Homo sapiens: one gene and its partner. The protein of the gene in region 1 interacts with the protein of each later gene in a biochemical or structural test. Each region holds a gene or a part of one and is shown in the gene's direction. Other genes may lie near its edges.

The links.
Region 2: the proteins of NEDD9 (region 1) and PEX14 interact in a test that uses a peptide from one of them, tested with the Homo sapiens proteins (one large-scale study listed by BioGRID and IntAct).

What each region holds. Positions count from the first base shown.
Region 1 is NC_000006.12:11,187,590-11,191,406, reverse strand, and holds part of NEDD9 (enhancer of filamentation 1), read left to right. Parts: intron 1-201; coding exon 202-1,443; intron 1,444-3,099; coding exon 3,100-3,189; intron 3,190-3,817. UniProt on the Homo sapiens protein: Scaffolding protein which plays a central coordinating role for tyrosine-kinase-based signaling related to cell adhesion. As a focal adhesion protein, plays a role in embryonic fibroblast migration.
Region 2 is NC_000001.11:10,617,648-10,621,464, forward strand, and holds part of PEX14 (peroxisomal membrane protein PEX14), read left to right. Parts: intron 1-684; coding exon 685-770; intron 771-3,817. UniProt on the Homo sapiens protein: Component of the PEX13-PEX14 docking complex, a translocon channel that specifically mediates the import of peroxisomal cargo proteins bound to PEX5 receptor.

The sequences.
Region 1 (3,817 bases):
CACCAAGAACGTGGGGTTGGACACACTTGGCAAAGGACAAGGGAAGTGACAGCAGAATAACGGGGAACCTTGGAAGTGCCTAACATTGGGGCGGGGGAGGGCGACCGAAAAAGTGCCAGCAAATAGGACTGAGCACATGGGACCACAGGTTCCCATGAGCCAACTCAATAAATAGCATTTCGCTTTCTACTTGCTTTGCAGGTATATGCCATTCCGCCCTCTGCTTGCCGGGATGAAGCAGGGCTTAGGGAAAAAGACTATGACTTCCCCCCTCCCATGAGACAAGCTGGAAGGCCGGACCTCAGACCGGAGGGGGTTTATGACATTCCTCCAACCTGCACCAAGCCAGCAGGGAAGGACCTTCATGTAAAATACAACTGTGACATTCCAGGAGCTGCAGAACCGGTGGCTCGAAGGCACCAGAGCCTGTCCCCGAATCACCCACCCCCGCAACTCGGACAGTCAGTGGGCTCTCAGAACGACGCATATGATGTCCCCCGAGGCGTTCAGTTTCTTGAGCCACCAGCAGAAACCAGTGAGAAAGCAAACCCCCAGGAAAGGGATGGTGTTTATGATGTCCCTCTGCATAACCCGCCAGATGCTAAAGGCTCTCGGGACTTGGTGGATGGGATCAACCGATTGTCTTTCTCCAGTACAGGCAGCACCCGGAGTAACATGTCCACGTCTTCCACCTCCTCCAAGGAGTCCTCACTGTCAGCCTCCCCAGCTCAGGACAAAAGGCTCTTCCTGGATCCAGACACAGCTATTGAGAGACTTCAGCGGCTCCAGCAGGCCCTTGAGATGGGTGTCTCCAGCCTAATGGCACTGGTCACTACCGACTGGCGGTGTTACGGATATATGGAAAGACACATCAATGAAATACGCACAGCAGTGGACAAGGTGGAGCTGTTCCTGAAGGAGTACCTCCACTTTGTCAAGGGAGCTGTTGCAAATGCTGCCTGCCTCCCGGAACTCATCCTCCACAACAAGATGAAGCGGGAGCTGCAACGAGTTGAAGACTCCCACCAGATCCTGAGTCAAACCAGCCATGACTTAAATGAGTGCAGCTGGTCCCTGAATATCTTGGCCATCAACAAGCCCCAGAACAAGTGTGACGATCTGGACCGGTTTGTGATGGTGGCAAAGACGGTGCCCGATGACGCCAAGCAGCTCACCACAACCATCAACACCAACGCAGAGGCCCTCTTCAGACCCGGCCCTGGCAGCTTGCATCTGAAGAATGGGCCGGAGAGCATCATGAACTCAACGGAGTACCCACACGGTGGCTCCCAGGGACAGCTGCTGCATCCTGGTGACCACAAGGCCCAGGCCCACAACAAGGCACTGCCCCCAGGCCTGAGCAAGGAGCAGGCCCCTGACTGTAGCAGCAGTGATGGTTCTGAGAGGAGCTGGATGGATGACTACGATTACGTCCACCTACAGGTAAAACAGCGGAACTCATAAAACACCTACACTCACTCACATGCAGGGAGCCTGAGAAAGATGCCTATAAGGATGTCGGGTTGGACTGCCAAAGGAGAGAACATAATTAATGTTAATCTACATGGTTCACAAATTGGAGGGAGTGTCGTAGAGTAGTAAGAACGCTGGGCTGAGAGTCCTGAGTACTCACTCAGATCTAGCCCTTTCTCTGACGTTTACTGTGTGACCAACTTATTCAACCTCCTTGGGCCTTAATTTCCTCATTTGCAAAATGAATGGGGTAAGGGGTTGGATTAGATCCCGTTGATATACCTCAGGTAAGAGGAGACTCACCAAGTAGGATAATAGGCCCTCTAATAATAATACCAGCTCCACTTCTATTTGTGTTTTATGTATAGTTCCATGCAATATTTTATTTGAAAAAAAAGTTTTCGTCATTAAGAAAAAGAATAGAAGACCTTTGCACCAGAGAATTTCTAAGGCCCCTGCTAGCCCTACTCTGTGTATGTGTGTGTATAATTGCTTTAAAACTTAGCCCCATCTCAGACTTACCTAGAGGACCACTGGGCATTAGCTAGCTGTCCTAGGAGCTTAATCTGTGTATGGGACATTGGATAGTCACAGTTGGCCTCCTACAATTGGGAATTCTACCAAGCTCCAAGTTGACCTGGGATTCCGACAGCTTTCCCTTCCACTTTGAGGGATTAAAACATTCTACTGGCTGGGCGCAGTGGCTCACGCCTGTAATCCCAGCACTTTGGGAGGCTGAAGCAGGTGGATCACAAGGTCAGGAGTTCAAGACCAGCCTGGCCAATATGGTGAAACCCCATCTCTACTAAAAGTACGAAAATTAGCCAGGCATGGTGATGCACGCCTGTAGTCCCAGCTACTTGGGAGGCCGAGGCAGAAGAATCACTTGAACCTGGGAGGCGGAGGTTGCAGTGAGCTAAGATCGTGCCACTGGACTCCAGCCTGGGCGACAGAGCGAGACTCTGTCTCAGAAAAAAAAAAAAAAATCTACCAAGATCCATTGTTTAGGACTAGGCTTACTATCTTATTCTGCCATTCTTTTAATTTGACTGAGAGTCACAGATTATACTGAGAACTACGTAACTATTATGCCAAATTCCCTCAAGCGCAAGAAAGTGTGGCAAGGAGAACTGAGCCCCACCTGATGCTGAGGAAGGAAGTGGAGAGAGAGAGGATGGAGGCATTGAACATTCATCTTACTGGTTGTCTGACCCTGCACAGTGGGAACTACTGCCTTGGAGCAGAAATCTATAGATGATTTGAGGGAACTAGAAGTGAGAGGTGGACCACATTTAGACCTGCATTTGGGGGTTTACAGGTTCACATATAATCTATGAGAAAAGAACCCAGAGACTATAAAAAGAACATTATATATGAGATTTGAAGGGAATCATGAGTAGCTCTCCGAAAATTTTAAGGTGCCCCAGAAAGCTGGCACCCTATATGGCAATGGGCTTTATTTTTCTGCCACCCCTGTCGTCTAGGGTTCACAGTGCCTCACTGGGCATTTGAGATGTTGCCAAGGCAGTGGAAAATAAAGAGTATTTACTCATCCGTCAATGAAATTGTTAGCATAAGTGAATCACAGTGATGACATAATATGTTCTTTATGTTGAAAATTAACAGGGTAAGGAGGAGTTTGAGAGGCAACAGAAAGAGCTATTGGAAAAAGAGAATATCATGAAACAGAACAAGATGCAGCTGGAACATCATCAGGTAAGTTCAATCAGAGCAAAAACTGCTTGGCATTGGAAAGATTTCCCACCTAGCACTAAGGAAAGGTATCACTTCAAGAGATTATGATTTTGATTCTTCCAGCTCACTGGCAGGAATCAGCTCCAAAGCACGGAATGGGGTTTAAAAGCAAAGAGAAGGTTTATGACCTTGTTAGTTCAACTGGGTGTACCTGGGTTCCATCTAAACGGCAATTTTTTTAAAGGCTAAACCTGCATATCTAACATATGAGGACTATTTGGGTTAAGGCATTTGGTCTCAAGAAACAAGACCCATTCAAGCTAGCCTAAGCAAGCAGGTTTATAGTAAAGCCACAGTAGGGGAATTCAGTAACAGAAAGTGAAGATAGAGCCAGGTCTGGGGAGAACTAGAACTGTAAATTATCTCTCCTTCTTGTAGTTCCTTTGCTTCTTTCTATCAGTCTACTTCACTCTCACCTATTTTCTGGTTTTCTCTAATTATCTACTCATTTGGCTCCCCTGTAACTTTGCAGAACCCATAAATGGCCACTCAGAACTTCTATAGATGGCTTTTCATCTCGGCTTCCTCTTCCGATGGTTAGCTCCCTTCTCTTGTTCATCAGATTCCCAAGAAAGAGTCTGATTGGGCC
Region 2 (3,817 bases), on another chromosome or scaffold:
AGCCCCCAAGGGCCTCAGGGCTCCTCCAAGGCCCTGCTGACCCCAGCCCCTCTCCCCTGCCACCCCCATCCCTTTTGATAGGCGTTCTCATTCTCTGAAGCCTTGCTCAGTCATTTGGAGACTTGTGTTTTCTCTCCTCTGGCTCCAAGCGAGAGCAGGGCTGGGAGGTCTAGTTTACCACAGCCCACCCCCGTGCCCCCACCCAGCGTACCACGGTCCCCCTCTCCACTTCGCTGAGGCCCCGCTTGGTTCTGCTGTGGCCCCCAGCTTATCGCCAGCTATAGTAGGGCATATATGGGTATATTTATGCTCCCCTAAACATACTCCTGTTATCCTCTCTGGATCTTTTGTTCCTGAGGTAGAGACCATGCTGTTGGTCTTCAGATCACCTCTGCCACCTGACTGCCAACTCAGGTCTCAGCTCACTGCTAGATACCTCCACCCACAGCCTGCAGTCAGGGTTGGGTGACTGGCATCCCTTGTGTCCCAGTTGAGGCAGTGGGAACAGGAGGGGTGGAGCCGGCTGCTGTTGTGATGATCATGTGCTGCCTTCCTGCGTTGGAGTGTTCCACTTGCCCATTGTTGGAGGCGAGGAGACTGTGCCACTGAGGCACCTGTGCCAGCCCCCACCCGAAGAAGGACGCCATGTGCGTCTTCTAACCCTCCTCCTCTTCCCGCCTGTAGGTCCCGCAGGCTCCCGATGGCGAGATTACGGCGCCCTGGCCATCATCATGGCAGGCATTGCATTTGGCTTTCACCAGCTCTACAAGGTGAGTCACCCCCAGCGGCTGCAGGTGCTGTGCCCCTGCCACCCTGTGGCATTCAGCACCCTTTCACTGGTTCCCCTGCATGGAGGCACTGCCGTGCTCTGCCCTGGAGTGTGTTGGCAGTGAGAGGCTGTGGTAGAGGTCGGGGTTCACAGCTGGATCCAGGCAGACCCTGCCCTGCTGTGGGGCTTGGCAGGCTCTGCCCACCTTTTCTCCAGTGCTCAGCATATACCACCCAGATCTCCACTTGCAGGGGCGTCGTGAGGTCTGTCCCTTGCCAGCCCATGTCAGGCACTTACAGTAGTGCCCGCACGGGGAAGCCGTGCGAGCAGTTTTGAGACACAGAATAACATAATGGCGAAGAGCATGGACGCTGGGCCAGCTGCTTTGCTGAGCCCTGGCTCTGCCCCTCAGGAGCTTGGTGATCACAGGCTCTGGTCTGTAAAATGGGAATAACAGTCCCCACTTCACAAGGTTGTCGTGAAGTCCGGAAGAGTCAGTCTCCCTTGTAGAGGACTCAGAGCCATGCCCGGCACATGGAAGTGCTTTATACACCATTGTTCTGCCACAGCATTTAAGAGCGGCGGTGAGAACCTCAGTGTCATCAGATGTATGGGAGCTGTTCTTTTTGCTCTGTCTGTTGTGCTGCCATCTATAGAAATCTAGGATTTCCCAGGCTTCTCAAGTCAACTTTCAGGATCCCAGGTTCATTGCTTGCAACAGAACTGCAGGCATGACGTGAACATTGACTCCCTTGTGAAGGCCCAACTTGGACGTGAAGCAAATGAGTCTAGAGTCTAGAAAATGCAGGCCAGGGTAGGTGCCCAGTCCAGATCTTGGGACCCTGTAGAGAAGCCTCTTTTCTTTCGAGGCTGCCAGCTCCTCCACCCCTGATTGGTGATTTTTTTTTTTTTTTTTTTGAGATGGAGTCTCGCTCTGTCACCTAGGCCGGAGTGCAGTGGCATGATCTCGGCTCACTGCAAGCTCCGCCTCCTGAGTTCAAGCAATTCTCCTGTCTCAGCTTCCTGAGTAGCTGGGATTATAGGCGTGCTGGTGCATGCCTGGCTAATTTTTGTACTTTTAGTAGAGATGGGGTTTCACTGTTGGCCAGGCCGGTCTCGAACTCCTGACCTCAGGTGATCCGCCCACCTCGGCCTCCCAAAGTGCCAGGATTACAGGCTTGAGCCACCGTGCCCGGCTGGTGATTTTCTTTTTTAAACAACCTGAATGAGCACTCAGACTCGCCATGGTCACTCTTAGCACATGAAACATGGTCAGCCATGGTATTCCAGATTCTTCATTTTTGATGTAATACAAAAGCTAATGACAGTTGTAGCAGAATATAATTTTTTAAGTGTAGCATGTATTCCTGGAGCTGGACATTTCCATGTTAGAAATTGAGAAACAAGGGCTGGGCGCGGTGGCTCACGCCTGTAATCCCAGCACTTTGGGAGGCTGAGGCTGAGGATCCTGACTTGATCACGAGGTCAGTAGATCGAGACCATCCTGGCTAACACGGTGAAACCCCGACTCTACTAAAAATACAAAAAATTAGCCCAGCATGGCGGCGGGCACCTGCAGTCCCAGCTACTGGGGAGGCTGAGGCAGGAGAATGGGGTGAACCTGGGAGGCGGAGCTTGCAGTAAGCCAAGATCATGCCACTGCACTCTAGCCTGGGTGACAGAGCAAGACTCCTTCTCAAAAAAGAAAAAGAAAAAGAAAAAGAAATTGAGAAACAAAACATCCTGGGTTGGCCCAGGTGCCGTGGCTCACACCTCTAATCCCAGTACTTTGGGAGGCCAGGGCAGGCAGATTGCTTGAGCCCAGAAGTTTGATATTAGCCTGGCCAACATGGTGAAACTGTGTCTCTACCAAACAATAAAATAAAATAAAATAAAATAAAATAAAATAAAATAAATAAGCTAGGCATGGTGGTGTGAGCCTGTAGTCCCAGCTATACTCGGGAGGCTGAGGGTGGTGGGAGGATCACTTGGGCTCGGGAGGTGGAGGTTGCAGTGAACTGAGATCACACTACTGCACTCCAGCCTCGGCAACAGAAGGAGACCCTGTCTCAATTTAAAAAACAAAATAAGCCAGGCGCAGTGGCTCATGCCTGTAATCCCAGGACTTTGGGAGGCTGAGGTGGGCGGATCACTTGAGGTCAGGAGTTTGAGACCAGCCTGGCCAACAAGGTGAAACCCTGTCTCTACTGATAATACAAAAATTAGCTGGGTGTCATGGCGTGCACCTGTAATCCCAGCTACTTGGGAGGCTGAGGCAGGAGAATCACTTGAGCCTGGGAGGCATAGGTTGCAGTGAGCCTGCAGTGAGCCGAGATTGTGCCACTGCACTCCAGCGTGGGTGAAAGAGCGAGACTTTGTCTCAAATAAATACATAAATAAACAGAACAGAACAAAAACACCTCTTGGGACCCGGTTCTTCTCCCTCTGAACTGGTGCCCCCTTCAAATCACTGACTGTATACAAGCACCAAGAAGAATGTGACACGAACGCCAGAGTCCTCAGATGAATGCCCTGGCTGTAATGAGCAGTAGGCACTGTCACATGGCCACCCATGGAGGGCCTGTGGCCTGACGGGAGCGGGAGGGCAGCTCGGCAGCCCGCCTTAGCGTGGGCACTCACACGGAGCTGCCACTTGTAGTTTCTACGAAGCTCTGGGCTCTCCGCTCTGTTTTAAAAAGAAAAGAAACATTGCAATATCAGTCACAATGGTAACAAGAGAATTTCTAAAGCATCTGCTCAGTTTCTCGAAATTAAAAAAAAAAAAAAAAAGAAATGGTAAAAAGCCCTCGACTGGCTTTATAAGCACGTGAAGACTTTGGCTAGGGCAGCGTGTCTGCTCCTGCCCTTAGGACTTCTGATCTCAGAAATGGGGTGTTTAGTTGGTTACACACACATATATGAATTCTTTTTTTTTTTTTTTTTTTTTTGAGACACAGTCTAACTCTGTTACCCGGGCTGGAGTGCAGTGGCATGATCTCTGCTCACTGCAGCCTCTGCCTCCCGGGTTCAAGCGATTCTCCAGCCACA